Regions from separate parts of the Homo sapiens genome. Here all the other regions are linked to region 1. Evidence: fine-mapped expression QTL. A gene starts in region 1. Each other region holds a variant in brackets. All regions are shown on one strand. Distances are between the middles of the regions. Region 1 holds the start of AGRN (agrin). Region 2 overlaps AGRN (agrin). Region 3 holds the start of LINC02593 (long intergenic non-protein coding RNA 2593).

Evidence for each region.
Region 2: its variant is fine-mapped to the expression of AGRN in whole blood (INTERVAL, PIP 0.98).
Region 3: its variant is fine-mapped to the expression of AGRN in whole blood (TOPMed, PIP above 0.99).

Annotation. Positions count from the first base shown.
Region 1 is chr1:1,015,067-1,025,382 of GRCh38, reverse strand. AGRN (agrin) reads right to left here and starts at 5,263. Exons shown (of 36, transcript NM_198576.4): 1 at 5,010-5,263; 2 at 2,921-3,182. The coding sequence starts at 5,210. RefSeq lists enhancers at 1-630, 631-1,607, 2,792-3,991, 10,274-10,316, 10,133-10,316 and silencers at 5,500-5,949, 9,627-9,847.
Region 2 is chr1:1,044,621-1,053,509 of GRCh38, reverse strand. AGRN (agrin) reads right to left here. Exons shown (of 36, transcript NM_198576.4): 13 at 8,233-8,349; 14 at 7,987-8,151; 15 at 7,634-7,777; 16 at 7,422-7,546; 17 at 7,245-7,350; 18 at 6,775-7,113; 19 at 6,553-6,690; 20 at 6,056-6,183; 21 at 5,823-5,937; 22 at 5,615-5,734; 23 at 5,145-5,498; 24 at 4,451-4,643; 25 at 4,059-4,274; 26 at 3,715-3,944; 7 more. Among named protein-coding and RNA genes, the nearest start is that of RNF223, 25 kb to the left of the region's middle. RefSeq lists a silencer at 2,720-2,819. The variant GCC/C (reference allele first, on the strand shown) is at 4,395.
Region 3 is chr1:913,667-923,982 of GRCh38, reverse strand. LINC02593 (long intergenic non-protein coding RNA 2593) reads left to right here and starts at 4,291. Exons shown (of 4, transcript NR_122045.1): 1 at 4,291-4,648; 2 at 5,068-5,158; 3 at 5,868-5,961; 4 at 6,263-7,165. LOC284600 (a long non-coding RNA gene) reads right to left here. Exons shown (of 5, transcript XR_007065342.1): 2 at 8,512-10,316; 3 at 8,034-8,233; 4 at 5,912-6,101; 5 at 2,964-4,013. It overlaps LOC107985728 (collagen alpha-1(III) chain-like), which reads left to right. Exons shown (of 5, transcript NR_168405.1): 2 at 522-708; 3 at 840-970; 4 at 1,248-1,311; 5 at 1,474-3,740. SAMD11 (sterile alpha motif domain containing 11) reads right to left here and starts at 60. Exons shown (of 14, transcript NM_001385641.1): 1 at 1-60. RefSeq lists enhancers at 437-1,015, 2,857-3,793, 10,292-10,316. The variant C/T (reference allele first, on the strand shown) is at 5,969.

The sequences.
Region 1 (10,316 bases):
CGTGGGACTCTGGGCTTCCCCTAGGACTGCCGTCCTGAGGCCTAGGCAGCTGGCCAGGCAGGGAGGAAGGGAGGGTGCACACGCCGGAATACAGGCGGGCCCGGGACTAGGCCGCCGGGACCCCGGGCTTCAGAGCTGGGCAGGGCCGGGCTGGGAAGGCGCCAGACTCACTCTGACCCTGGCCCCCTGCCCTGTCCCTGTGCCAGGCCCCGGCAGGGGCAGACAACACTCCCTTTCTCTGCTCCTGGCTCCTAGCAGGGAGGGATGGGCCCCGGGCGGCCTGGCCGGCCCTCAGCCAGGAGTCCCTCCTGGGGGCTTCAGGGAGGCTCTAGGACCAGCCTTTGTGAGGTGGGCTGGGAGGGCATGGGCAGTGCCCAGACAGGACAGGGTGGCGAGGGCCGGAGGAGTCGCCCGCTCAGCCGCCAGCCCTGGGCAGCTGGCACTGCGGAGGCCAGGCCACTTCCCTGACAAAGCAGGGGCGGGGGTCTCCTTCCGGAGGGAGCAGCGGGCCTCCCCCGCCCAAAGGTGGCGCAGAGGGAGGGACACATACCTGTCTTAGTTATGCCAGGAATGTGGCTCCCTAGGCAGAGAAGGGGGGAGGAGCCTTTCTGAGGGTTGTTGACTGGGGGAGGGGCCTTGGCTGGGCAGGGCCAGGAAGATCTGGCAGGGCCAGGTGAGAAACTGAGGAAAGGAAGTCCTCAGTAGAGCTGAGTCCAGGTGTGGCCCAGCAGCAGGTGCACCTCAGGCGGTGTCCGGGCAGGGGTGGTGAGGGGCGTGGCCCTCCCCGACCTGGGGAGCTCGGAGGGGCCTTTGTCTCCAGGATGGGGTTCCCATACAAGGTGGGACCCTGTGGTCTCAGGGGTAGCTTCTGAAGACTAGGGGCTGCCCAGACGCCATCCTGTGCCCTGGGAGGTGGGGTCGGAGTCAGATGGGGAGAGGTCAGCTAGGCTCAAGCTCCCTCCATCCATCCCCCTCACTAGGGTGAGGCCTTGGCTACCAGAGGGCCCAGGGTGGGGTTCAATGTCCTTATCTCCTACAGAGCAGGAGATGGACCCACCTCCCACACCACCCAGTGTGAGGGGAGGGGTGGGCACACAGAATTGTCCCTTCTCCAGCCAGACTGGCTCCAGAGACCTTGTCCCTCAGGGCTCACCCCAGGCTTCTGGGAGGCATTTACCCTGTCCCGGCAGCCAGGGACCCCAGCCACCCGAGATATCCCTGGTCTACTTCCACAGCAGAGCTCCACATGTCCCACCGGAAGCTCCTGGGCTCCCCCACTCCTCATGCTGTTTCCCTCCTGAGGCTCCCCTTGGCCCCTGGCTCACCTGCAAGGCCCCTCCCATGACAGTCCTCCCTGGCTAACCCTCCCCTGGCCAGCCCCACCCCAGGGGGTCCGGTGGCCACAGCCCCTCCCGGGTGCTCCCCAAGCTGCATACTGGCTGTGGGTCCCAGGCTCCCCACCTGGAGCTCGTCCCTGAGTGCGACTGCCCACAGCTGGGCTAAGCCACACCCACCTGGCAGGGGCTCCCCACGGACCCTCCTCCCAGCGCTCTGCTCCGCCTGGGCACTCGCTCCAGAGCCAGTGCCTGGCACCCGTAGAGCGGCTTCGGTAAGATGCAGAGCCTCGTTCAGCCGGGGTGACTCTCCTGCCATGTGCCCTCTGACCCTAGAGCAAGTCCTCAGCTACTAAGTCACGGACTCTCGGGCTGGACCCACCTGGCTGTGGGGTTAGTGACCCCCTCTCCTGATCTTGCAGGGACAGGAACCTCTCCTCGCCCTAACCCCCTTCTCCAGCCCCTCCTCAGCTCCTGACAGCCTATCCTGAGTCCACGATGCCCCCATCTTTTCCCCAGACCATGAGTGCCCAGAAGAGGACCAAGGTTATCATGTCCTCCCAGTGGGGGACCCAGGGGACCCTCCTCTGTGCTGCACTGAGGCCCTGGACCCTGAAGGCAGCTTGGGGACCACTGACCACAGGCTGGGGAAAAGGCCGCAGCGTTCCTTATTTTGGGTGCTGCCCCTCCCCCTGCATAGCCCCCAGGCATGCACAGAGAAGGCAAGAGCAGTGGACAGTCCAGGACCCCACAAGGACCCCTCAAGAGCCAGGCTAGTGTCAGGGCAGCAAAGTTTCCTGCCGGCCAACGGAGCAGATCGGAGAGACGGGAAGTCAGGACCCTTACCGTTGCCTTGAGGAGGAAGCACTCTCCAGACCCCCCCACCGACACATCCCTTCCCAGGCAGCCATGAGGGAGCAGACAGGATGTGGGGGCGACAGGGACCTCCTATATTTTCCCTGCCACATTCCCCAGCCAACGATCTCAGTCCCCAACTGGGACTTGTCCTGCGGGGGCTGCCATGGGATTTCTGCCCCCACCAGGCTGGGGTCAGGGAGGGCCACTCCTCGGCCCTTCGGCAGAGCCATGGGAACAGCAAGCAAGACCTCACGATGGCAAATGCCACACCCTCCACATCCGCAGAAGCCCTCGCCGCACAGCCTCGCCCTCCCGCCCGATCTCCACGGCGAGGAGTGCTCGACACGCGGGCCCGTCTAGACGGAGGTCTGGGCTAACACAGGGGCTTGAACAGCTGGGGACATTCACCTGTCCAGCTTCTCCCTAGAAGGGGCCTCCAGAAGGAAGTATGGAGAGCTGGGAGGAGGGGAGGAGGCAGGAGGCCATCTGTTTGCAGGGCTGGGACTTGCCTTGGGCCCCAGGGCCAAAGATGTCTAATGTGAGGGCTTGGAGATGCAGCTGGGGAGCCAGGGACGGAGAAGCAGAGAATGAGGTTGGACCACAAGACACCGTGTGCTGCAGCCTCCGGCACAGCACGAAAGGACCCCGCACAGCGACCCCTGCAACCTGTCCCCCTTGGCCACTGCCCTGACCCCCACAGGCCCCCACACGAGCCCCCCACCACGCACCTTCCACACAGAACTCCACCTCCTCCAGGTTCCGCAGGGTGATCCGCATGAGGCTGGAGTTGAGCATCAGCTCGTTCTTGTGGGCTGGCCACAGGTATGGGGGTGCAGGGTTCACAAAGAAGATCCTGGTGTCCCCAGTGGACACCTGGTTGTCACAGATGAGGGGGTCTCCAAAGCCGCTGATCACCACCTTGTTGCCGCCGTCCAGCAGGCTCTCCCGGGCCACCAGGTCTTTGCCCTTCAAGTACCGCCAGACCCGAACCTGGGGTGGACATGGCGGTAGGTGTCATTAGTCCTCTCCTGGGGAAGGGGCTAGACTGGGGGCTTTAGGTGTTTAGGGCAAATGTCCACAGTAGACTCAAGCCCTGGGCAGAGATGTGGGGAGACCTCTGAGTCAGCCCGCTGGGCGGAAGCTGGGGGAAGCCCACACTGGCCACCACAGCCCATGCGGGAACGCTCAGAGATGCGTCACCTGTGAACACATCCCCTCCCCCAGGTCTAACCAACTTCAGCCACCCCAGCTCCAATAACGTCCCTATCAGCTAAGGCCGAATTTGGGAAGGGGGCCCACCTGGCTTGGGGTGCCTGCCTTCCACACTTCTCCCCACCTGCCCAGTGCTCAGGGCCCACCTCCCAGCAAGCTTGGGCAGTGGAGGAGGGGGATGGGGCGTTGGGGTAAGGGGCCAGCTTGGCCCTGTGGCTGGGCTGAGACGCCCCTTCCTCGGGCTTCTACAGTCTGTGCACTCAGGGCAGCCTGTGAACCACGAAATCAAGTTTGGGCAGTGCAGGGTGCCCCACCCTCCACCTTCTCAGCTCCTGGGGCCCTGAGGGCAGCTGCTCTGACGGTGGCCTGTGGTAAAGGCTACAGCCGACCTGGCGGCCCTCACGGGGACAGGGACCCACGCACTCACGCACTCCCCTGAGAACAAAGCCGGGAGAAGCAGCCCCTTCCTCAGATCTGGGGGGCTGGGGCTGCCGGATGGGGGGAGAGACAATGGTTGGCCTGTCCACTGCGCAGCCCCTGCTGGGAGCCTCAGGACTGCGGCATCCGCAGGGACCCCCTCCAGTTGCGCAGGCAGAGCCTCTTCCACGCCCCCCAACAGTAGGCTCCAGGAGGCAGATGACCCAGGCAGGGGGAGGGCCTGGTGGCTTTCATCGCCTTCCCCCACCCCAGCCACACCCAGGAGCAGCGGGGAGGAAGTCGGGAAAATCCTGCAGGGGCCTGGCAAAGTGCCCTGGCCGCTGTGGAGGAGACTGGGCCGGCGGGGGAGCCCAGCTGTAGCCCGCACCGGCCAGTCTGAAAGAAGCTGCCACCTTCTCCACCTCCGTGGAGGGAAATGAGTGGATTTCTGGTCCCAGGAGATGGTTTTGGGGGTACACGGGCGCCGGCTCTGGGTCCCCCGAGCCCCTACTAGGAGAAGATGGTGGGGGTCCCAGCGTACCTACCCCGGGGGCTCCCAGAAGCACCTGAAGGAGAAACCAGGGAAACTTCCCCTCCCCGGGGTGGGGAGCCCCGGTTCCCGCAGGAGCGCGATGGGGCACCGGCCCTGCCCCCAAGCACACGAGGCCCGGTGACGGCCCCGCCCACCTCTCTGCTCCTGCACGCCCCCCCCCCGCACCACTGCGGCACCCCCCACCTGGCTCCCGGGGTTGGGAGCTCAGGCTGTGCGCCCCTTTTTCTCTCCTGACCAACCCCTCTCGCCCCGGGAAAGGCCTCTGGGGAGGGGAACAAGCGGATCCCAGGCCCAGCCCCCGCTCCCCGCCCGGGCAAAGGCCCCCCCTCCCCAGGCCCCTCTCCTTCTCGGCCGGTAGGGAGGGCGCGCGGCAGCCGCAGTCCGTGGGCGAGGTGCACTTGTCTCCGCGAGGAGGGAGGCGGCGGCGGGCGGAGGACGGCGGCGGCGCAGCAACTTTCCCCGGCGCCCGCGAGTTTCCCGGGACCCGGCGACCCCCCCTCCCGGGGCTTGGCGGTCGCCAAGGGAGCCGGAGCGGGGGCTGCGGAGCGACCGGGGCTGGTTCCCACGGCCTGGGGCGGGGGTCCCGGCGGGGCGGCAGGCGTCGCGAGGGGAGGCCGGGGTCCGGGTGGGCGCACCTTGCAGGAGTACGTGTGCTGCACCGGGTCCACGTTGAGGATCTCCTCCACCGTCCCGGTGAGCACCACGTTCGCCTCCTCCTCGCGCCGCTCCAGCGCGCGCTCCGGGCATGTCCCGCCGGCTCCGGGCAGGACGCACGCGGCCACCACAAGGAGCGGCAGCAGCGGCCGCAGCGGGCCCGGGTGGGACCGGCCGGCCATGGCGCAGGCGAGAGGCGGCGGAGGAGCGCGCGGGCCGCGCCGGGGACGGGACTGGACAGGACGGGACGCAGCTCCGGAGGCGGCGGAGCGCGGGCGGGCGGGCGGGGGGGGGCGGGGCCAGGGCGGCGCCCCTCCCCCTCTCTCCTCCCCGCCCCCCTACCCCCTCCCCGCGCCCTCCTCCTCCCCCTCCTCCTTCCTTCCCCCTCCCGCCCCCTCCCTCCTCCCTCCCCCGGCCCGCCCGGAGGCCGGCGACCCGCGCCGCCGCGAACAAAGCCCCGGGACGCAGCGCCCGGCGCGGCCGTGGGGCGGGAAAGGGGCGGCCCGGGAGGGGGCGGGGAGAGGAGAGTGGGGGGCGGGTCTGGATCCCGCAGGCGCCCCTCCCCCGCCGCGGCCCCCCGGAAGTGCGGCTGCACCCGAGTTAATGCCTAATCTGGAGGAGACGTGACGGGACTGCCGAGGGGCTCCGGGCGGCGCGGAGCCGGGCGGCAGGGCTCGAAGGCCGCCGGGAGGGGCCCCAGACCCGGCCCCGATCCCGCTCCGCAGGCCGCGCCCCTCCCCCGCGGGGCCGGACACCGAGGCTCGGCCGGGCCGGACCCCCCGGGAGCTGCGGCGCGGAGGCGGGTCCCGGTGCCGGGGCGGGCGCTGATTGGCCAGCACGGGGCGCGGCCCCGCCCCTCCCGGCCCCGCCCCCCCAGGCCCCGCCGCGGGGAGGTTCGCGCCCCCTTCCGTCCCGCGGCTGCAAGCGCGGGTCCCGCCACGCCCCTTCCCAGCTCTGGGCCGGGCGCCTCTGCAGCTTGGCCTGGCTGGGTGCAGGGGGAAACTGAGGGCTGGAGGACCCAAGTGGGAGCCTGGCCTAGCTGAAGATTGAAAGGAGGGAGCGGAGGCCCCCTTTGTCCCTTCAGAACTGTGTCTAGGCTGGGCGTGGTGACTCACGCCTGTCATCCCAGCACTCTGGGAGGCGGAGGCAGCAAGATCTCTTGACACCGGGTGTTCGAGACTAGCCTGGGCAAAATAGCAAGACCCCATCTCTCAAAAAAATTAAAAATTAGCTGGATGGGCCGGGCGCAGTGGCTCACGCCTGTAATCCCAGCACTTTGGGAGGCTGAGGCAGGTGGATCACGGGAGGTCAGGAGTTCGAGACCAGCCTGGCCAACATGGTGAAACCCCGTCTCTACTAAAAATACAAAAATTGGCCGGTGTGGTGGCAGGCGCCTGTAGTCCTAGCTACTTGGGAGGCTGAGGCAGGAGAATCGCTTGAACCCAGGAGGCGGAGGTTGCAGTGAGCTGAGATGGTGCTGAGAGGTGACAGCGTGCTGGCAGTCCTCACAGCCCTCTCTCGGTCTTCACGCCTCCTCTGCCTGGGCTCCCACTTTGGTGGCACTTGAGGAGCCCTTCAGCCCACCGCTGCACTGTGGGAGCCCCTTTCTGGGCTGGCCAAGGCGGGAGCCGGCTCCCTCAGCTTGCAGGGAGGTGTGGAGGGAGAGGCATGAGCGGGAACCGGGGCTGCGCGCGGCTCTTGCGGGCCAGCTGGAGTTCCGAGTGGGCGTGGGCTTGGTGGGCCCCGCACTTGGAGCAGCCGGCCGGCCCTGCCGGCCCGGAGCAATGAGGGGCTTAGCACCCGGGCCAGCGGCTGCGGAGGGTGTAGTGGGTCCCCCAGCAGTGCCAGCCCACTGGCGCTGCACTCGATTACTCGCCAGGCCTTAGCTGCCTTCCGGCGGGGCAGAGCTGGGGACCTGCAGCCCACCATGCCTGAGCCTCCCACCCCCTCCGTGGGCTCCTGTGCGGCCCAAGCCTCCCCGATGAGCGCTGCCCCCTGCTCCACCGTGCCTAGTCCCATGACCACCCAAGGGCTGAGGAGTGCGGGTGCACAGCGCAGGACTGGCAGGCAGCTCCACTTGCAGCCCCAGTGCGGGATCCACTGGGTGAAGCCAGCTGGGCTCCTGAGTGGTGGAGACGTGGAGAACCTTTATGTCTAGCTCAGGGATTGTAAATACACCAATCAGCACCCTGTGTCTAGCTCAGAGTCTGTGAATGCACCAATAGACAGACACTCTGTATCTAGCTACTCTGGTGGGGCCTTGGAGAACCTTTATGTCTAGCTCAGGGATTGTAAATACACCAATCGGCACTCTGTATCTAGCTCAAGGTTTGTAAATACACCAATCAGCACCCTGTGTCTAGCTCAGGGTTTGTGAATGCGCCAGTGGACACTCTGTATCTAGCTACTCTGGTGAGACCTTGGAGAACATTTATGTCTAGCTCAGGGATTGTAAATACACCAATCGGCACTCTGTATCTAGCTCAAGGTTTGTAAATACACCAATCAGCGCCCTGTGTCTAGCTCAGGGTTTGTGAATGTGCCAGTGGACTCTGTATCTAGCTACTCTGGTGGGGCCTTGGAGAACCTTTGTGTGGATACTCTGTATCTAACTAATCTGGTGGGGACGTGGAGAACCTTTGTGTCTAGCTCAGGGATTGTAAATGCACCAATCAGCGCCCTGTCAAAACAGACCACTAGGCTCTACCCATCAGCAGGATGTGGGTGGGGCCAGATAAGAGAATAAAAGCAGGCTGCCGGTGCTAGCAGTGGCAACCCGGTCAGGTCCCCTTCCACACAGTGGAGGCTTTGTTCTTTCGCTCTTTGCAATAAATCTTGCTACTGCTCACTTTTTGGGTTCACACTGCTTTTATGAGCTGTAACACTCACCGCCAAGGTCTGCAGCTTCACTCCTGAAACCAGCGAGACCACGAGCCCACCGGGAGGAACAAAAAATCCAGACGCGCTGCCTTAAGAGCTGTAACACTCGCCGCCAAGGTCTGCAGCTTCACTCCTGAGCCAGCGAGACCACGAACCCACCAGAAGGAAGAAACTCCGAACATATCCGAACATCAGAAGGAACGAACTGAAGACGCGCCGACTTAAGAGCTGTAACACTCACCGCGAGGGTCCGTGGCTTCATTCTTGAAGTCAGTGAGACCAAGAACCCACCAATTCTGGACACAGTGCAACTGCACTCCAGCCTGGGTGACAGAGCGAGACTGTTTCAAAAAAAAAAAATTAGTCGACGGGCCGGGCGTGGTGGCTCAGGCCTGTAATCCCAGCACTTTGGGAGGCCGAGGTGGGCGGATCACTTGAGGTCAGTAGTTCGAGACCAGCCTGGCCAACATGGTGAAACTCTGTCTCTACTATAAATACAGACAGGGCACGGTAACTCACGCTTGTGATCCCAGCACTTTGGGCAGCCAAGGGGGGAGTGGATCACAAGGTCAGGAGTTCGGGACCAGCCTGACCAACATGGTGAAACTGCCTCTACTAAAAAATTAGCCGGGTGACACGCACCTGTAATCCCAGCCAGTCAGGAGGCTGAGGCAGGAGAATCGCTTGAACTCAGGAGGTGGAGCTTGCAGTGAGCCGAGATCACACCACTGCACTCCAGCCTGGGCGACAGAGCGAAACTCCATCTCAAAGAAACACAAAACAAAACAAATACAAAATTAGCCAGGTGTGGTGACACGCACCTGTAATCCCAGCTCCTCGGGAGGCTGAGGCGGGAGGATCACTTGAGTGTGGGAGGTGGAGGCTGCGGTGAGCGGTGATTGTGCCACTGCACTCCAGCCTAGCTGAGAGTATGACCCTGGGAAAAGTAAGTAATTTTTTTAAAAAAAGGACTGGGTCAGTCAGGCCCAGTGGTTCACACCTGTAATCCCAGCATTTTGGGAGCCCGAGGCAGGCGGACCACTTGAGGCCAGGAGTTCAAGACCAGCCTGGCCAACATGATGAAACCCCATCTCTACTAAAAATACAAAAATTAGGCCGGGTGCGGGGGCTCACACTTGTAACCCTAGCACTTTGGAAGGCTGAAGCGGGCGGATCATGAGGTCAGGAATTCGAGACTAGCCTGGCCAATACAGTGAAACGCTGTCTCTACTAAAAACACAAAAAAAAGTTAGCTGGGTGAGGTGGCGGGCACCATTAATCCCAACTACTTGGGAGGCTGAGGCAGGAGAATTGCTTGAACCCGGGAGGTGGAGGTTGCAGTGAACCGAGATGGCGCCACTGCACTCCAGCCTGAGCGACAGAGTGAGACTCTATCTCAAAAAAAAAAAAAAAAGCACGGGTGCGGTGGCTCACGCCTGTAATCCCAGCACTTTGGGAGGCCGAGATGGGCGGATCACGAGGTCAGGAGATCGAGACCATCCTGGCTAACACGGTGAAACCCCGCCTCTACTGAAAATACAAAAAAAAATTAGCCGGGCGTGGTGGCGGGCGCCTGTAGTCCCAGCTACTCGGGAGGCTGAGGCAGGAGAATGGCGTGAACCCGGGAGGTGGAGCTTGCAGTGAGCAGAGATCGCGCCACTGCACTCCAGCCTGGGCGACAAAGCGAGACTCCGTGTCAAAAAAAATAATAATAAAAAGGACTGGGCCTGTGGTGCCCCTCTCACCCCAGGCTAGCTACAGATCTCTGAGCCAGAAGCCACAAAGGAGGCCCTGCCCTGCCCTGCCCCCGTTGGGGGTTCAGGAAAGGCCCCTGGCTAAGTGCTTCACTCGCCCATTGTGACACAGGGGTGAGGTGGGGACCCGGACACAAGGCTGGAGCCAGGACACCCCCTGCTGGGCACATGCGGGCACACACAGTGGTCCTGGTGCAGCCAGATGGGGGTCTCCCCACCTGGATATGGACCCCCACAGACCAGGGGGGACTCTGTGTCTCCAGCCGGATCCTCCCGAGGGCTCTGAAAGCTGAGGCCCAAGTGCCCAGAGTCCGGACTCTGCATGTCCCTCTGTGCCCCGTCCTCGCTGCATCCCAGCCGACATCCGTGCCCCGTCCTCCCTGCTTCCCGGCCAACAGCTGGCTTCTAGGAGACTCATTTAGCAAATTGGAATAGGAGAGACAGAGAAGGGTGCATGGGTGGGGGAAGGGGTGTAGCTTGTAGCTTGTACTGAATTGGGGGCCCCCCACCTGGGACAAGCTCTGCTTCCTGGACGGTGTCAGCCCCAACTCCAGGTGCCCTCCACTGCTGGCCACGGCCCCTCCTTCACGCACAGCCTTGAGGGGGTGTACTTAGCCACCCAGGCTGTCTTCTGCAGCTGGCCCCAGTGGTGAT
Region 2 (8,889 bases), 29 kb before region 1:
GCTGCCACGTGCTCACCTGTGAAGGGCCCCGGAATCCAGAGTTTCGGGGCTTAGAAGCAGGAAGAGAGGGAGGCGGGTGAGCAGGGGACAGGCGGGGCCAATGCAAACCCATCTCAACACTGTGGGGTGCAAGGAGCAGGCACCCACAGAAGACATGCGTGACCTCGAGGATCACTGGCCGCCCACCAAAGAGCCCAGCAGGGACACCTACACATGCTTGTGCGGACACGAGACACGTGAGGGTGCAGACACCCACGTGCAGACACGAGACACTTGAGGGCACAGACACCCACATGCAGACACCCACGTGCAGACACCCACGTGCAGACAGCAGGGGAGCACAGCCAAGGCTGGGCGCAGAGATCAAGGAGGTAGGCGTAGGGTGGTATGGAGTGGAGACCAGGGGCTTGGATGCCCCAGTACACACATGCATGTGTGCATGCACGCAAACCTACACACGGACACACACACCCCTCCATGTTCACACACATACACACGTGTACACGAACACACACAGACACACCTGAGTGCTCCCCACTTACACCTGTTCATACACACACACATCTACATATCCCCCCATATATACACGCATATACACGGACCCATGCACACACTCGGACACACACCTGTCTCCCCCACATATACACACACATACATGGACCCATGGACACACACTCGGACACACACCTGCGTGTCTCCCTCATATACACACACATACATGGACCCATGTGCACACACTATACACACATGGACCCATGCACACACACTCGGACACACACCTGCGTGTCTCCCTCATATACACACACATACATGGACCCATGTGTACACACTATACACACATGGACCCATGCACACACACGGACACACACATGCATGTCTCCCTCACCTATACACACACATACATGGACCCATGTGCGCACACACTCAGACACACACCTGCGTGTCTCCCTCATATACACACACATACATGGACCCATATGCACACACACACACACGGACACATACCTGCATGTCTCCCTCATATACACACACATACATGGAGCCATGCACACACACGGCCGCATAGTCACACACGCATATCTACATGTCCCCCCCACATATACACACACACATATACATGGACCCATGCACACACACAGCTGGATATTCACACACACTTGCACATCCACTCCATATACATAGACACGCACAGACACAGCTGCATGTTCACACACGCGGAAGTGCACACGGACACAGACATGCATGCATATGCGCACAGGTGTGTACAGCCTCAGTGGTGGGGGTTGGCTGTGGGGCGACCCTCGGCCTGTGCCCTGGGAGGGGCGACTGCACTTCTGAGGCAGGAAACGGCCTCTTGCAGCCAAATAGCGCCGGACCCCCATCCTCCGCCACAAGGGATGGAAAGTTCCCCGGGGGCTCCGGACTCTGCTCCCCACCAGGAAGGATGGAGGAGTGGGAGTGAGAGGGAGCGGGGGGCGCCGAGCTCTACTCACACGGGGATCTCATTGGCCAGTTCGCTTGGAAACAAAGAGACAGACAGTGAGAGGCGGGAGGACCGGGAGGTGAGAGAGAGGCGGGAGGACAGAGGTGGCAGCACCGGGCCGTCCCCTCCTGGGCCCTCCTGGTGTGGGGGTCCGGTGTCCCGCCCCGAGGGCACAGATGGAACCGACAGCCAGCAGAGGATGGCACGTTACCTCTCGGTCACAGCGTTGAGGTACTCGACAAAGGTCCGCCCGTCAAAGGCCAAGGTATCCACGTCCCCCGCTGACTTCTCCACCAGCCCTGTGAGATAGGCAGGTGAGGGTGGGGCCTCGTGGGCTCCGGGCCCATCCGGCCTCCGCCCCCTGCCCTGTGCCAGGCTCACCCTTCTCGCAGTGCGGTCCTGAGAATCCCCCGGGACACAGGCACACATAGGCAGCCTCCCTCGGGACGCAGGAGGCCCCATTGAGGCAGGGGTGGCCTGAGGCCCGGGTGCAGGGGTGACCTGCAAAGGACGTGACGTCCACCTGCCGCAGCACGTGCTCCGGGGTCAGCAGCTGGCGGCCTCCGAGGGAGACCTGCAGGGCAGGGTGAGGGCCTTGTCCCGCCTGCCACCCCGCCCGCCCCGGAGGCCCTGCTGGGACGCCCCGCCCCCACATACCAGCTGGATGGCACCGTCGAAGCCAGAGGACACGGCAGCAGCACGGGCCAGCTTGCTGAAGTCGGGAGCGCCCCCTACGTAGAGCGGCTCCTTCAGGTTGAGGACGGTGTGCGGAACCTGCGGGGACGCCAGGTAAGTGGCTGTGCAGAGCCCACCCACGGTGCAGACCCAGGGCCCAGGCACCTGCACGCACCCGCCCCACCCGCCCATTGCCTATCTAGGGGGCAGCGTTAATCACACAGAAATGGCAGGGTCCTTAGTGGGGGAGGAGCTACCCTAGGGGTTGAGGCGCCAGAGACGGTGAGCGGATGAGAGGCCGACAGTACCTTGCGGGATTTCTGGCCTCCGAAGAGCGGGTGGGGTTGCAGAGCGAGAGCAGAGAGCAGGGAGGCAGAGGAGGCAGAGGACAGGGCAGGCGGCCAAGAGAACAGGACAGAAAAACAGCTCCGTGAGCGCCGGCAGGGGCGGGGCTGCCGCCCGAGGAGGAAGAGCAGGCAGCAGCGGGAGTCCCCTCGCGGCCCAGAGCACTCACCGGGGACTCCCCCAACACACGGGGGCCGTCGCCCACACGCAGGGCACCCTTGCGGCCGTTTCGCTCCAGTGAGACCCTGGTCCAGGCTCCCAGGGTGACTGGCTCCCTGCTCCTGGTGAGGAGGGGCAGCGTGAGTGGGCTCTGTCCACCACCGGCCACGCGACCACCCAGGGCCTGAGCGACCTGCTGGTGCCCCGGCCCCGGGCCAGTGCCCCAGGCCTCCCAGAGCCACCCTTGCCGGCCCACCTGATGACCGCTGCCCCCTTGCCCAGGTCGTAGCGGAACTCCAGGCGGCGGTCCCGCAGTGCCAGCGACACGAAGTCCCCCTTGCCGTCCGTCTTCTGCCCGTTGTAGAGCAGGAGGCCGCTGGGGCCTCGTGCCAGGAACACGACCTCCAGCGCCATCTTCTCCCTGGGGTCATGGGGAGTCGGGGTGTCTTTGCTGTCCCCTCCCCACAGGAGAGACGGAGGTGGGGGCCGGCCCTTCCCCCTGCTCCTGCCCCACCGACCCCAGGTCCCGTGCAAAGGTGTGCAGGCCTCTCAGCTCCAGGTGGGAGAAGCCGTTGAAGTCAGCCAGGAAGGGCCCAGAGCCGTCCTGCCCCGAGGCTGTAGGGAGAGTCACCAAGGCCTCAGTCCTGACCCCCGGGGCCTCCTGCACCCCATGCCAGCCGTGTGTGGATCCTAACTCAAAACCCAGACTAGACTGAGCCGCATCCTAACTGCAATGCTACCTGGAACCTGTACCCGCCCAAACGTTCAACCCCCCCCCCCCCCCTGCCCCGAGAGCCCCACGCCCCCGACCTGTCTGGCAGAAGGTGCCCTCACGCCCCAGGGGGCACTCGCACTGAGCACCACCCTCGGGCAGCACACGGCAGGGCGCCGCCCCATGGCAGGGGTTGGGCTGGCAGGGGCTCTTCTCATCGGCACAGGTTGGTCCTGGATGGAGGAAGACGGGACCGGGACCGAGGTCCCAGGAGGCGTCGGTTGGGTACCGCCCACAGGCCCCGGGGTCCCACTCCCACCCGCCCCGGCCCCACCCTCACCGACGCGGCCGGGCGGGCACTGGCAATGGAACCTTCCAGCCTCCAGGTTCTGGCATGGGGCCCCGCCATGGCAGGGGTTGGGCAGGCAGGGGTGGTCCCCGCACTCGCCCACGCCAGAGCCTCGGGTGGCAGCCCCCGGCCCAATGCCAAGCTCCAGGCGCTGGTTGTTGACGTCCAGCAAACGGATGCACCCCCTCAGGCCGGCGCCCACGAAGGTCCGCTCCAGCGCCCTGCCACCAGGAGGGACACCGGGTCAGGGCTCAGGGGCCACAGGCAAAGCCACCTCGTACACCGGGACCCCAAAGGGCCGGGGTCGGGGCCACACCACCCTCCAAGGGACTCACACGGCAGCCTGGTCCTCGGGTACGCCGCCCACAAAGAGGTCTGTGTCCAGGTTGAGGCCGTCGGTGCCACTGGGACTCTCGCCCAGAACAGGGGTCTCACCATCCACCGAGAGGGTGCCCCGGCGCCAGTGCCGGGACAGCTCCAGGCGGTGCCACTGGCCCGGCTCTACCGGCACGGCACTGGTCAGCACCGCCGGCCCCGAACCTGTGTCAAACCTGAGGGCAGGAGCAGGTGCTCAGGACCATCGCCCGGCCCCGTCCCCACCCCGCCTACCTGAGCTGCCCCGCCCCCGTCCCCACCCCACCCACCTGAGCTGCCCCGGCCCCCCCTCCCCC[GCC/C]CGTCCCCTCCCCGCCCACCTGAGCTGCCCCGGCCCCGTCCCCTCCCCGCCCACCTGAGCTGCACGCGGCCATCTAGCAGCGCCAATGCCAGGAAGTCCTTGCCCCGGGCGTTGCCATTGTACAGCAGCAGCCCCTGAGGCTCCAGCGCCCGGAATTCCAGTGCCAGGCGCAGCGTGTGGTAGGCGCGGAGAGTGGGGAAGGCCAGGAAGGAGCGGCCCTCGAAGGCCGGCACAGGGGCGCCAAGCACTGCAAAGGGCGACCGGGAGGGCCGGCTGGAAAAGCTCCGAGGATTCCCCACTTTTATCCCTGAAACCGCCCCCTGCTTTTTTTTTTTTTTTTTTTTTTGAGACGGAGTTTTGCTCTTTTTGCCCCGGCTGGAGTGCAGTGGCGCGATCCTGGCTCACCGCAACCTCCGCCTGCCAGGTTCAAGCGATTCTCCTGCCTCAGCCTCACGAGGTGGGATTACAGGCGCCCACCACCACGCCCGGCTAATTTTGTATTTTTAGTAGAGACAGAGTGTCTCCATGTTGGTCAGGCTGGTCTCGAACTCCCGACCTCAGGTGATCCGCCTGCCTCGGCCTCCCAAAGTGCTGGGATTACAGGCGTGAGCCACCGCATCTGGCCGAAACCCCGCCTTAATCCGGGCTCCTGCCCCCAACTCAAAGCCTGATGGTGGCTTAGCCCCACCCCCAATCCTTGCCCCCACCCTGCTGCCTCCCCGCCCTCCTCTGCAGTGGACATCCTTACCCTTCTCACAGACGGCGCCTCCCCTGCCTGCCGGGCAGCTGCAGGTGAAGCCCCCGCCCAATGCCCAGTCCTGGCAGGTCCCCCCGTGGAAGCAGGGCTGTGAGTCACAGGGCTTTGGAGGCTGCTGGGGGGCCGGGGGCCGACGTCCGGGCACACGGCTGGGGGCAGTGGTGGGGGGCCGACGTGTGGTGGGGGCTGCCGTGGTCTTGGCAACGGGCTGGCTTGTGTGACTGGGGTGCGGGGCCCGAGGGGTCACAGCAGAGGACGGCAGGCGCGATGCAGTGGTGGCTCTGGCCGTGGCTCCCGCAGCAATGGCTCCTGACGTGGCCCCCGTGATAAACGCAGGAAACCAGTCTGCCGGCACAGGGAGCTGTTAGGGTTTCCTGGGAGCAGGGCCAGGAAGGGGTGAGGGGCAGGGGCATGGGCAGAGGAGGGGGCAGGTAAGCTGTGGCTCGTGGCCTGGCGCTCACCAAAGTCCATAAATCGCACGTGCTCCTGCAGCGGCCGCCTCACCCCCAAGGACCGGCGCCTGGACACCTGGATCTGCCGGAGCAGGGCCCGGGCCACGTCGGGTGCCCTGAAGGCTGTGGCTGGGGAGGAGGGAGCTCTGAGCATGGCAGAGCCCCAGGCATCCCCCACCCATTGCCTCCCAGGAAGGGTCCAGGGTGCAGGTCTCACTGGGGTCAAAGTGCACATCCACAATGGCGCGGACGGATTTGCCGGGCCCCAGGTCCCGCAAGCGGACACTCCGAAAATCCTTCTTGACGTCTGAATTCCGGAAGAGGTCGTCCAGCTGTGGCAGGGAGTAGGCAAGGACTTGGGGGGCCGCCCAAGCCGGGCTGCCCTGGTGCTGCTCTGGGTATCTGGGGAGGAAGGCCAGTGGGTAGGTGGGGGCTGCGCCCCCGTCTTACGGTGCTCTCAATGCTCCTGGCTGTCTCCCCGAACAGTTCTGACTTGGGGTCAGCCATCTCGGGCGTGTAGAACAGCTCCTGGCCCTCGACGCCCTCCAGCTCCAGGACGCCCTGGAACACCTTGGTGGCTGTGGGGGAGGTACAGTGAGGCCCTGCCTGGCATCTGCCTGGCATCCAGGCTGGCCCAGGCACAGGCCCCAGCAGCAAGCCACAAGGGTGCAAGGGAAGGTGGATGTTAGTCAGATGGTCATGAGGTTAGTGGGGACCCCAGGGTGGGGCTGGTGTCGGTTACCAGGAGGACTCCTCAGAGCAGTGTGCCACACCGGCTTGCAACGAGAGAGACGGGTTAGGCGTGGGGTCCCCGGCACGCACATGTTTGAGGGGGCCGAGTCCCAAGACCATAACCCCCGGCACTGACCTGCTGCCCAGGCGAGGGGGCAGCACCTCGGCCGAGCCCAGGCTATCCTCACACTCCCCTCGCCCAGCCGTCCACTCACCGGGGCAGTTGGAGCCCTCTGCGTCCAGCGAGGGCGTCTTCCCATCAGAGCAGCAGCCCAACGCGGAGTTGTAGCAGGAAGCCCTCTCGACAGGTGGCCCAGGGGTGGCCACGCTGCTGCCCTCCAAGGGCTCGAGCCCTGGGGAGACGCGCTCTGAGCCCAGGCTCTGGTGGAGCCTCTCGGCGCCTGCCCACCCACCCCAAGTCCTTGATCCCTGCTCACCCCCAGAGCCACCCCCACTGGCCTCCTGGTCCCCGCTCAGTTCCTCATCGCTGCTTCCATCAGTGCTGCCAGATTCACCAAAGGCGGACGCCACCAGGCTGGGTGCAGGGGAGGGTGCCGTGGGGGGCACCGTCAGCACGGGCCACACGGTGGTCCTGGGGACGCTGGCAGTGGTCCGAGGTCGTGATGAGGGCGGAGGGGTGGTCTGGCTGTGTGCGGTACTGCTGGGAGCCAGGGGGAGGGCGCCGGGGGGGGCCGGCAGTGCCTGGCTCAGGAGGAGCCCTGGGGTGGTCACAGTCACGGAGGCAGATGTCGGGTGAGTGCTGGGAGCAACAGCCTCTGCAAGGAGAGGGAGGTTGGCGGGGGGACCGGTTGGGACAGGGTCAGGTGGCTCAGGGCGGGTGGGGCTGGATTTAGGGCAGCGTCAGGCCTTCCTGGTCAGTTCTGGGGCAGTGGCCGTCAGGCCTCACCCTGGCACGGGCCCAGGCTCTGGATAGAGATTTGCAGGCCCTGGCGGCAGGCGATGGTCTTCAGCTGACACTCGTTGCCGTATGTGACTCCATCTGACCCACAGACCTGGGGCAGAGAACAAGGATGTTCAAGGCGAGGCCTCCTCCCCACTCCCCTTCACATCCCACACCCCTCACCTTGGTAGCGTTGGCCTCTGGACAGGTGAGCATCGGGCAGACACAGTGGGCTGAGCCAGACTCCTCCACGCACCGCGCACCGAACTCACAGCGCATCTCCGCACAGGTCGCAGGCGCAGAAGCGTCTGGGGCACGGGCATGGGAAACCTCTGTGGCTCGGGTGACCCCACCCCACCCCATGAAGCCCCAGGGTAGCGCTGGCCCTCACTCACCAGCTTCACAGCCCGCGGGGCCCAGGGCACGGCCGTCTGGACACTGCCCACACTTGGGTCCAGCCACCCCGGGCTTACACGAGCACAGCCCCGTCATCTGCTCACAGTCATCCCGCACGGCGCCTTGGGGATCACAGCTGCAGGCTTTGGGGAAAATCGGGGAGGAACGTGATGTCCGCACCTGGACGGGCTTCCCCACCTCCTCCAGAGCCTGGTCCCCAACCCTGGCTCTGCCCAGCCCCCAGCCAGGTGTGGGTCAGGCCAGGGCCTGGGCAGGTGAGGAGAAGCACAGTGATGGGGGTGAACAGGTAGGAGGGCATAGCCGGTGGCCAGTCCTGGGCCCTGTCACTCACGTGTACAGCCACTCCGGCCATCGGTGACGATGCCTCGAAAGTTCCAGAAGCCAGGCTCACAGCGGTCACACCTGAGGCCCCCCACACCTGGGCGGCAGGAGCACTGGCCTGTGGCTGGGTCACAGGTGCCGCCGTAAGAGCCATGGGGGTTGCACTGGCAGGCACCTGAAAGGCCAGGGCAGGACAAGGTCACGTGGCCGCACAGCCGCACCAGGCCCGGGGTCGGGGCTGAGCTCAGGTACTCACTGGGGCAGCCAGCCAGGCCCACGCCCCGGGCTGCGGTGATATTGTCCTGGCAGCAGCCGTAGGGCGTCTGGGCACAGTGTAAGGGGGCCACAGGCGGCAGCGGGGCGAAGGTGGGGCCTGCAGGAAAGGGTACGGGACTCAGATTTCATGCAGTGCTGGACACCCACCCTGGACCCAGCCAGTCTGCCTCCACCTACCCCCACTGTCACCACTCAGCCGTCCCGATCCCAGCTCCCAGAGGAGCCCGGGAGCCTGGGGCTGAGGACACAGGTGAGGCTCCCACATCTTACGCAAGAACATGTCTGTAAATGCAGATCCAGGAACACACAACACACAGAGCATCCAAAGATCACGGACACGCAGCTCTGTGCACACACACACGCGAGCTTCCTTGCAAATCGAGAAACAGACATCTGAAGACGTCAGCATGCGTTCTCACCCACATTCCTCCAAACCGTACAGTTAACGCCCCTCTGCAGACACACATCTGTGCACGCGCATCACACACACCGGGCACCACTTTTACCTAATTGATGTGATACATCGACCGGATGGACGTATGCAGAGAAAGTGCCCACACGGTGGGGCCCCGCATGGTTCACGCTGCCTCTCAGCACTGAGGCCTGGCCTGGTGCACGCCCACTGACTGATGGACAC
Region 3 (10,316 bases), 100 kb after region 1:
CGTGCACCCGCGTCCACTGGCGCGCGCCCGCCCGGCGGGGACTTGGGAGACTCCGCCGCCGACGCCGCCGCCACAACTTGGCCCATTTAAACGGCCCCGGCGCGGCGGGCGGCGCGGGCTCCCGCGGGGGGTGCGTGACGGCCGACTCGGGGCATCCGGCGGCGGCAGCGGGACAGGGCTGCGGCCCCCGGCACTATCCCGAGTACCGAGTCACTGCGAGCGGCTGGAATCCAGGACTCCGCGCGGGACTGGGATGGGCTGGGCTGGTCGCGGACCGGGCTCCTCTCGGAGGGAGGGAGCTGGGGGCTGCTCGCCGGGGTGTGAGCGTGCGCCGGCGGCTCTGGGACTTTGCGCAGCGAATCTGATGGTGGGCGTTGGTGTCCGGGAGGGCGTGGGTGGTCTCAGTGCACCTGCAGGGAGCGAGGTTGTGGATTTGTAGTGTGTTGCCTGGGCAAAGTGTTCTGTGAATAACAGGGCAGCACCTCCCCGCCCACTCGTGCCCCTTCCTATGCACTTGACAGGAGTGAGTTCGCCCGAGCCACGGAGTTCCTGTTCAGTCTTTTGCAGAAGACGCTGAGACAGAAAGGTCAAGTAACTCTCCTGAAGTCACACAGCTGTTTCAAATGCAGGATGTCTCACACCAGGACCGCGCCAGGACCATGGTGTGGGGCAAGAGCTTCCTGTCACCCCACACCTCCCAGCAGGAAGGTGGTGTGGATCCGAGGCAGGGTGAGGGTGGGGGATAGCGGGTTGGCAGAGTGCACGGCCTCCCACTAGGAGGAGCAAGGCTAGTGAAGCAGGACCGGCCACACCACGTCCACCTTGGTGCCTTCTGACAGGTCAGTCTGGGCCCCAGTCCCTGGTTCCTGGTGAGCTTCCCATCACCCCCCACCTCCCTGCGTGCCCAGATCGGCATTGCATCTGGAGCGTTCCGAAGAGAAACACAACCTGGGGGCGTTGGTAACAGCAGGTGAGACAGCCTTGTCCTGCGCTGCTGTGCGGTGTTGCATCCACTAGAAAGGGGCCTCCTGTTCTGACCCTGGCCCCTGCCCTTGAGATGCAGCTGGCATGTCCCTGTGGGCATCTCCCAGAGCAGGTCCAGGGGTGAGTGGGCCACAGGCCTGTTTGCACAGGTGCCTTCTTCGAGGGAGGGAACAGCCCACCACCACCTCCTGCCAGACCAGCTTCCTTGAGCATAAACCTGACCCTGGGTGACCACGCTGGGCTCCTTCACCTTATCTCACCAGAGGCTTCTGCTGGTCCCACAGCCAACCCGCGGAGTGAGGTCTGGGCCAGGAGTGCTCTGCTCAGGCAAGGAACATGCCCAGAAGCCTCCCCCGCTATCCTGGCCCTGTTCTGTGGGGGCTCGTTGGTCTGTTGGGGTCTGGGGGGCCAGGTAGGAGTGTGGGTGTGAGTGTCGGTGACCCTTCCTTATGTGGCCACCCTTGGCCCTATCAACCTGTCTGCATCCAGGACACCAGCACATCCCTGACCCCAGCTGTGGCTGCCAGTGAGTTCCTGTGCCTTCCTCTCCTGAAGTCTGTGTCTTCTCCCAGGTCTGATACCATGTGGAAAGTCTGCTCCTGGGGCCAGCTGGAGGCCATGTGGACTGGCCCTGAGTGCCCACTGTCTGGATGCAGCCCTGACCCTACTGCCCGTGTGTGGGCTACTAGGTTCACCTGCACCTGACCCTCCTTCTAGGTTCGCCTGCACCTGACTCCCTGATGTTCACACAGTGATTTGGAGAGGGAGGCTGGGGAGGCGCAGGTCTGCATGGCAGTGCCTCTCAGGGTCTGAGGCCCTTGGGCCAGGCCTCTCCTCTGACCTGGGCCAGCAGAGGGGCCTCCTTTCCCTTCCAAGAGCCCTCCCCTGTTCACCAGCATCTCATCATGCTCAGGCCCACAGTGTGGTTAAGGAGGGGCATGGGGCTGGCCCTGGGTTTCTGGCTGGGTGTGGGGGCCTACCCGGGGCCCATGGTGTCTTCCAGAAAAGACCCTGACTGGGTCCAAAGCTGGAGGCACCCCTCTATCCTCACTGTCCACTCCCTGATGTTCTGGAGGTCCCTCCAGGGGCTGGGTGAGGAGGCCTTCCCCACCACCTCCTTGTCTTCCTGGGAAGCAGGCACCCGTTCAGAGGCCACGTTCCCACAGGACCAGGCTCCTCACCCCCAGCATCACCCTTTTCCACGGGGTTGTGCCCCTTCCTTGGTCCTGTCCACTCACACACACCCGTGTCCGTGTCCATGTTCACACCTGTTCTGTGTCCACTCCCACACACCTGTGTCCACTCCCACACCTGTGTCTCGTGTCCACTCGCTCACACCTGTACTGTCCGTGCCCACTCACACGTGTCCCGTGTCCACTCGCTCACACCCGTGTCTCATGCCCGCTGGCTTACACCAGTCCCGTGTTCACTGGCGCACCTGTGTCCCATGTCTTGTGTCTGCTCGCACATCTGTGTGATGTGTTCACTTGCTCACACGTGTCCTCCACTACCACACCTGTGTCCCATGTCCACTCACACACCTGTCTTGGTCTGGGACACCTGGGCCCCACTCTCCCCTGCACTCCTCAGGCTGGCGGCAGAGGCCAGAGGAACGGAGTTCTGGCGCTGGAATCATCCTGAGCGAGGCAGGGACCTGGCGGTGTGGACTCCACCGCCCCTCCTCCGGCCCACCGAGCCCCGCCTGCCTGGGCCTTGGTGCCTCTGTCGCTGCTCCGGGTCCCCCTGCTGGGGCCCCTCCGCCGCTGGGCTGAGGCTGGAGCCTGCCTCCCGCCGCCAGAGGGAGGAGGTCATAAATAACCCTGGGGCTGCCATGGAGCAGACGGTGACCCCAGACGTCCTGGGGGAGTGTGGGGGCGCCAGGGGCCGCTGCCCCAGCCCGCATGCCGCCTCCGCCATCCGGGAGTGCCTGCCCAGGCTCCCCAGCATTTCTCTTAGAGCCCTTCTCATCCATCCCCTCATCAATCAATCAACCATTTATTGAGCCCAGATGTGGTACAGCCCCAGCCGGAGATGACCCAGAGGTGGGGTGGGGAGGAGAGAGATGGGGAAGCTGAGTCCGGGGCCACAGGTGCAGCCAGGAGGTGCAGGTGAGCAGCGCTCAGACCAGCCTGTCAGCCTCAGTCCTGAGCTTACTTCTGGTGATGGAGGGAGATATACAGAAAAGATCCTGCAGCCTGCAGGTGTGGCACAGCTGATCTTGGGCCAAGGATGCACAGCTGTGTGTGTGCCTGGCCACCGGCAAGGGCACGTGGGCTCAGAAGCACAGGTGTGCCCACACCCTGCGTGCCTGTGTGTGGCGCAGCAGCTCCCGACGCGCGCAGGACACACACACAGCACAGACAGACCCTCCCATGGCCACACGGACAAAGATGGCTTCACTATAGACACCGGTGCAGACAGGATGTGCACTGCTTTCCAAGGCCTGTGCGCAACACAGACTCAGGGCCTGTGGGCATCAGCACCGCCCAGACCCAGGCACACGTGATCCTCAGCCAAGGTGGCCTGTCCAGTCCTGGTGCTGTTGGATGGAAAGGCTAACCTGGGAGGTCAGGGGCTGTGGTATATCAGCTGGGCTCCCTCGGACGCTCCTGCAGAAGTGGCCAGGACCTCAGGAACGCACCTGCTCCTGGTCAGACAGGAGGGGCTGCCGTGATGCAACTTGCCCGTGCCTTTGGGTGCTGTGAGCTGGCTGCGTGCCACGTCGTTTCGAGGACGCAAGAAGGTGTTTCCAAGTCCAGTCTGTCCACCGACCTGAACCTTTACCATTGAAAGAACAAAGGGGTGGGGCCCGAGGGACCCTTCCCTGCCGTCCCGTGGTGTGTAGTCAGGGATGCTCCTGCAGACACACAGGTGGGCTCTGACTGCCAGATCGCAGGGGCGGTGCCGTGGTCCTCACCTGCCATGTCACTAGCGTGCTGACGCAGACACCGGCGAGAGCTACAGTGCTCGGCCCGGCACATCCCAGACAATTCCTCTGTAAATGCTGCAGCAGCCAGAGGCCCCAGCACCTTGAGGTTAAGCAAAGAGAAGGAATAGAGTTCTCCAGAGCCCCAAGGAGCGGGAGGGTCTGTCCCAATGGATGGGCTCAGCCAATTTCACCCTCTCCTCCCCCTGCCAACACTGCGGCCTGCAGCCTGGACCTGGCCCGGGTTGTGGAGGGGACCGGGGATGCAGCTGCCACCTGCTGGGCGGACGTGGGCCTAGGTGGTCCTCAGCCCTCATGACAGGAGCCCCCGAAGCACTGTTGCGGCACCCTCTCTGACATTGGGTGGGAGACTCTGGGAGCCGAGTGCAGAGCCAGGGCCCAGCACGAAGGCCTTGGGCTCCAGTCCGTGTGCCCCACATCCCTACATGAGTGAGGGTGGAGGGATGGTGCCTCTGCCACGGCCACGGTGCCGCCGTCCACGTCAGCTCACTCTCAGCACAGGTGCTGTGTGACGGCCTCGGGCCACACCGCTTGTTCTGAGGCCCCTAGCAGGTCGGGCTTGTGCTGGCTGCACATTGGCTGGTGAGCTTGGCGGGTCTGTGGGCACGGAGAGACCAGAACGTGCGTAACAGGCCCGATGAGGGTGCCAGGCTGTGGCGACCCCCGAGCTTCAGAGGAGAGGGGCACCAGCCGGGGGCCCTGCACAGGCAGCCTCAGGTGCGAGGAGCTGGAGCCCAGGCCAGCTGGGGAGGGGTGGGGTGCCGTGGCTGGAAGTTGCTGTTCTCAGACCTGGTTCTGAGACCCTCTCCAACTGCATGGGGGGGTCCAGGCTGGACCCCAGATGTGACGGTGTATGTGCTGGGATGGGAGCCCCCTGAGAGCAGGGCTTTTGTTAATTCACCGGCAATCCCACATGTCTGGCACGAGATAGGTGCTCAGTCAGTGAAAACCACACACGGGGTCCTCCATTGTGTCCAGGGGAGGGTGGGCCCTGCTCACAGCCAGACTCCTAGCCCTGGGCAGCCCTGCTGCCTGCCTGCTCCTTCCACTCCTACCACCTGCCCAGGTGGGACTCTGCCTGCCTTCCTGTCCCCAGTGCTCTGTAGGAGTTTGACCACAGGTATCCTCTTCATCAGAGAGAGGAAAGCTCACGATCTGGGAGAACTCCAGGCCTGGCCCAGTGAAGACGTCCTTATCTTCAGCAGACATTGCCCAGTGCAAGGGGAGGTCAGTCTCAGGAGACAGTCTCCTGGACAGTGGCGTGGCATCTGTCCTAAGGCCTTGCCTGCAGCACAGGGTGCCACAGAGGTCCCCTGTGACAGAGCCTCATGGCTGGGGCAGGCGGGGGTCGCACCTGCTCCTGCATGAAGAGGCAGATAAAGACCCACAGCATGGTCTCTGGGGTCCCACATCCCAGGTAGAGAATGACCCAGGTCGCTGGCGTCTGTGCCATCTCTGCTCCACTGACCACTCATGGGGGTCCTGGAGATCCTGACACCGGTGGCCGGGGAGCAGCAGCCCAGGCACAGGCCCCAGTGCACATGCAGATCCCACCGTGTCTGCACAAGGCCTTGCCCCAACGAGGCCTGGGTGCCGTGTGAGGGCCGGGACGCTAACACAGCGGAGGGTACCCACGCGTGAGCTGCTCTGGGGTCCCTCCCCGTGTTTCTTCCTGTAATGAAACTTGTACCCAAATGGGATATGCAGGGTTGCACTGTGCAGTCGCTGTGTGTTTTAGGGTCTCATACCCGTGTGCGCCAGCAGGACCACAGCTGTGACCGGCTGCTCCAGAAGAAGTGGGTGGGTTGAGACCCCACCGGCAGGGTCACTGGGGGTAGCAGGCCCTCTGTCAGCACTGACTTCTGTATCATGTCAGGGATTTTTAGGGCGGCAAGCTCAGGTGGACAGGCAGTTTTATTCTGTTTCCCATGTCAAGTCCAGCCCCAGACTGACTTTCTGAGGTCACAGACGGAGCCTCACCCCATCCAAGGCGGTGTCCTGGACTCCCACTGTGCTCCCCAGAGGGCAGGGTGAGTG[C/T]GTGGCATCCTTTTGGCGGGCGTGGGTGCCTCTGTGGACCTGGCGTGAGGCTTCTCTGTTTCTGAGTCTCCTATGGACCATCTGTCTTCTGTGTGGCTGCTGAGGAATCACACTGGGGTGGCCGTGCCGGTGGCTGAATGAGAACAGGACCCCCATGCTGCACAGCCCTGCTTAACGCGGGGGTGGCCCCAGAAGCGGGTGGGCGAGGCTGGGCAGCAGGGATTGGCTGAAATCATATGCAGAGCCCAAGAGGCAGGGGAAAGGCGGCAATTTCAGGGTCCCTTTGTTCGCCAGGTACCTGGGGCCCAGCCCGGGCGGCAGGAGGGACTCAGCCCCTCGCCCAGGCAGGAAGGGTCCCAAGCAGAGGCCCCTCCCTCAGGCACTCCCCAGCCCACACCTGCAGCACTGGGACCAAGACTAATAAAACACCAGCCTCACGGAAGACAGCTTTATCTTGTTGATCGGAAGTCTGCCAGCCCAATTTATGATGGAACATAAGATCTCTAAATCTGAATTTACGCTCTGTAGCGTAACGAGAGGTCAATAAGATTAAACGGGGGCTCAGGAGAGGACCAGCGTCAGGCTCACTGCGAGGTGCTGCACAGAAAACCCACAGCCAGAGCCCCTGGGCCCAGCCCAGGCAAGACCAGAAAAGGAGGGGGCAGGTGGGAGACCAGCCTGGGGCTCCCGGGAAGCCCACGGGATGGAGGCGGGAGAGCCAGGAGGCCTGGGGCAACCCTGGGACGGTTCCTGGATCGAGGAGAGCAGGGGGGTGATGAGGGTTCCCTCAGGGCTGGGGAGCCTTCTCCTGGTCTCAGACCCACCCCCCTTCAGCTCCCAAGCCCTGGGTGCCCCTGGCTCTGAGGACAGTTGGGAATCTTCCCTGAGGCAGGTTCAAGGACAGAGCTCTGACCCTGGCCCAGGGCTGCTTTGGGTGCCTATGAACTCGGCTTCTGGCTCAGAGCAGTTCCCTGCACCCCTTCCTGAGCCCTCTGTCCTCTGGAACCCGTGGGCAGGGTGAGGGACGGGTGTTCCTTCTGGGTGGGGGCCTGGGCGCCCAGCCAGCACGACGCTGGCTTGCTGAGCTTAGGGCAGACCCCGACTTCAGAATTTATACAAATAAATGCAATGAAAAGTGCTGGCAACCTGATCTGATTACAGAGTCATTCATTCTCTGGTCGTTAATAATTTGTGCAATAAAGGACTGCAGCCGCTCAGTGCGGGGGAGGCTGTGGCCCAACCTTCCCTCGGCGCCGGCCCCGGGAGCTGGAAGCATAAATTATTAGTTTCTTATCGCTGGGCCTGCCATCGCTCATGCTGCCAGGGCCTGGCGGGAGCTGGTGGCTGTTCTGCTGCCCGCCCTGGCCGGCTCAGGGCCGGCTCTCAGCCGTCGCCTGGGGCCCTTTGTCACCCCCACCCTGGCCCCCCAGGTGTGGGAGCCCCAGAGCCTGCTCAGGCCTGGAGGCTGCTGCTGGAGCCGGCAACTCTGGAAGCCAGAAAGGTGGGGCTTTAGTGCCTGTCCTCAGACCCTCAGGTAACCAAAGCCAAATTACTCCCTGTTGGAAACACAACCTCACATACCGGGCCACAGCACGGACACCCACGACAGCAGGCCACAGCACGGACACCCACGGCAGTGGCCCACAGCACGGACACTCACAGCATGGACAGCAGCCCAGAGGGACCCTTGCCCAGACCCTGACCAGGGGGAAGAGACAGTTGTGTCTGGGTTTGTCAGTCCTCTGGTTGTGGCAGGGCCCCTCTGGGTGGGACTCGGCACCTGTACCTGGGAGCACCTGCTCAGATGAGGGAGTGGGAGCAGGAACAGCGCTCATGCTCTCTCCCTGTGTCCAGGGCTGGGGCCCTGGTCTGGCGGGTAGGCATAGGGCACCTCCTGCCCTCTCATGCCCTCATACACCTGCTGCTGGGGTTCCCTGTCCCACCCCAAAAGGGAGAAGCCAAGGCTGAGGCAAGGTTGGAAAATCAGGGTGGGGACTCTGGAATCCAGACATCCCGACAGAGGATGCAGGAGGAATCGGCGTGAGCGCAGGGTAAACTCACGGACCCGAACTCTCAGATGTGCTTCCTGGGCTCAGCTTCCCCTTTCTGGAGGGCTGGGGGTTCCAGAACCTTGCCTTGAATTTGTGAGGATGGTGGGACCTGGAGGGCAGGTGGCGCAGATGGTGTGAGCCCTCACCCCAGGACGCTGTGCCCACTTCTGGCTGTGCAGCCTTGGGAAGGCTTCTGACTTCTCTGAACCTCAATCTGTAAAATGGGAATGAGAATGAAACAAGATGAAATTAACATGCATTGAGCGTGTGGGGTGGGGCAGAGACAGCCACCTTGCAGCTGGTGAGGCCCTTACAGCATCTGGTCCTGCCACCTCGCAGCTGGTGAGGCCCTCACAGCATCTGGTCCCGGAGCCCACACAGCCCTTTGCAGAGACTGCCCTACCCACGTGCAAGCGTTTCGCCCTCTTCCCACGGGCGACCCCAGCTTGGCCGCATGCGTTTTTGCTCAGAACGTCCCCACCTATGTCCCACCTGCCCTCTGGCTTCGGGAGTGCTGGGCGCAGTGGTGGCAGGTGCCTCGGTGCCCTTGGACTTGCCCGGTCGTCTGTTGCTTCTGAGGCGGCCCCGTTGATGGGTGCTCCTTCTCTTCTGGGTGCATTTTCCTTTTCCTGCTTCCTCGCATGCCTGGTGATTTTTGAATGGGTGACAGGGATTGTGAATTTTGCTGGGTGCTGACTATTTTTGTAGCAAAGCTGAGAAAAGCTTACTTTGCTCAGGACTCCAGGAAGTTACTTGGAAGCTGTTTGGTCCTTTGGGGTCTTGCTTTTAAGCCCTGCTGGGAGGACCAAGGCAGCTTGTAGTCTGGGGCTGACTGTGCCCTCCTTTACCAGGGCACGGCCCTGCTTGGTGCTCTGCCCAGGGGCTGAGGTGCCCCAGCCTGGCTGGTGGACCACGGACCTTCCACGGTTCCCTCTGGTGATCTCGGGTGGTTCTCCTCACCTTCTGTAGTTGCCTTTCTTTTTTTCTTTTTCTTTCTTCTTTTTTTTTTTTTTTTGAGACGGAGTTTTACTCTTGTTGCCCAGGCTGGGGTGCAGTGGTGCGATCTTGGCTCTCCATAACCTCCGCCTCCCGGGTTCAAGTGATTCTCCTGTCTCAGCCTCCCGAATAGCTAGGATTACAGGCATGCGCCACCATGCCCAGCTAATTTTGTATTTTTTTTAGTAGAAATGGGGTTTCTCCATGTTGGTCAGGCTGGTCTCGAACTCCCGACCTCAGGTGATCCTCCCACCTCAGCCTCCCACAGTGCCGGGATTACAGGCGTGAGCCACTGCGCCCAGGCCTGTAGTTTCCTTTCATGTGAAAATGCTGATTGTGGCTCACTCTTTACCTGCTGTCACCTCACACCTCAGCCTCCCCAGACTCCCAGCTTGGTCTCCTTCCCTGAAGGAGACCCCTGAACACACCTGGGTCCCCACGCCTGCACCACAGCCTGGACACTGGGGGCAGTGAGCTGGGCAGTCGCGGGGCTCCGCCTCCATTGTTCCCCAGCCTTGCTCACCTGGTGACCCTGGCGGGATGGGGGTCTGGCTGCTCCCTCCTGCCTGGACGTCTGTCCCCACTGGTGTGCTCACGACAGTGCCCTGCATGCCTGCGGGGCTCTCACAGGTGTTTTCTGAGTGGCCTGGGTGGGGCCCGGGCAATCTGCTGGACAACAGACCCTCAACCCATCCCCTGCCAACCTAGCTCAGCCCTGAGCTCCTGGCAAGGGATGAGACAGCCTGAACTTCAGCCCAGGGAGGGGTGCGGGGGCTGCCGTCAGGTCCCTGCTGTTCCCTGTGCACCGAAGGTGGGCCACCTGGTTCTTCCTTCTCCAGGACCTCAGGCAGCCCCTGTTACCCAAGGTGGCGGCTCCACTGTGGGGGCCAGGACAGGGGCGGAGGGTGGATAGCATGCCCACTGTGAATGCCCCGGCTGGGTCCTTGCCTCTCCAAAGGCTTTGTCACCAGGGCCCAGGTGACAGGAGGCTGTCATTGTGAAGGAGATTTAATCTTAGAAAACTCTCAGGAGAGCAGTGAAGCCTCAGGGTGCTGGATTACCCGGAAGTGCACTCTGGGCTGGGGGCAGCAGCCGCGGTCATAACACGTGTGTGCCACACCAGGAAACCTGTCTGCTAACGTGTGCACATGGGCAGGCTGGCAGCACCTGGCTCTGGCTTGCTTGGAGTGGACGTTGGATCAGGTGGCCCGGGTCTCAGCCTGACACTGCCTGGCACTGAGGACAGGGCGTTGCTGACACTGCGGGCTCAGGGTGGGGGTTTGTCTCTACGGCTGACCTTC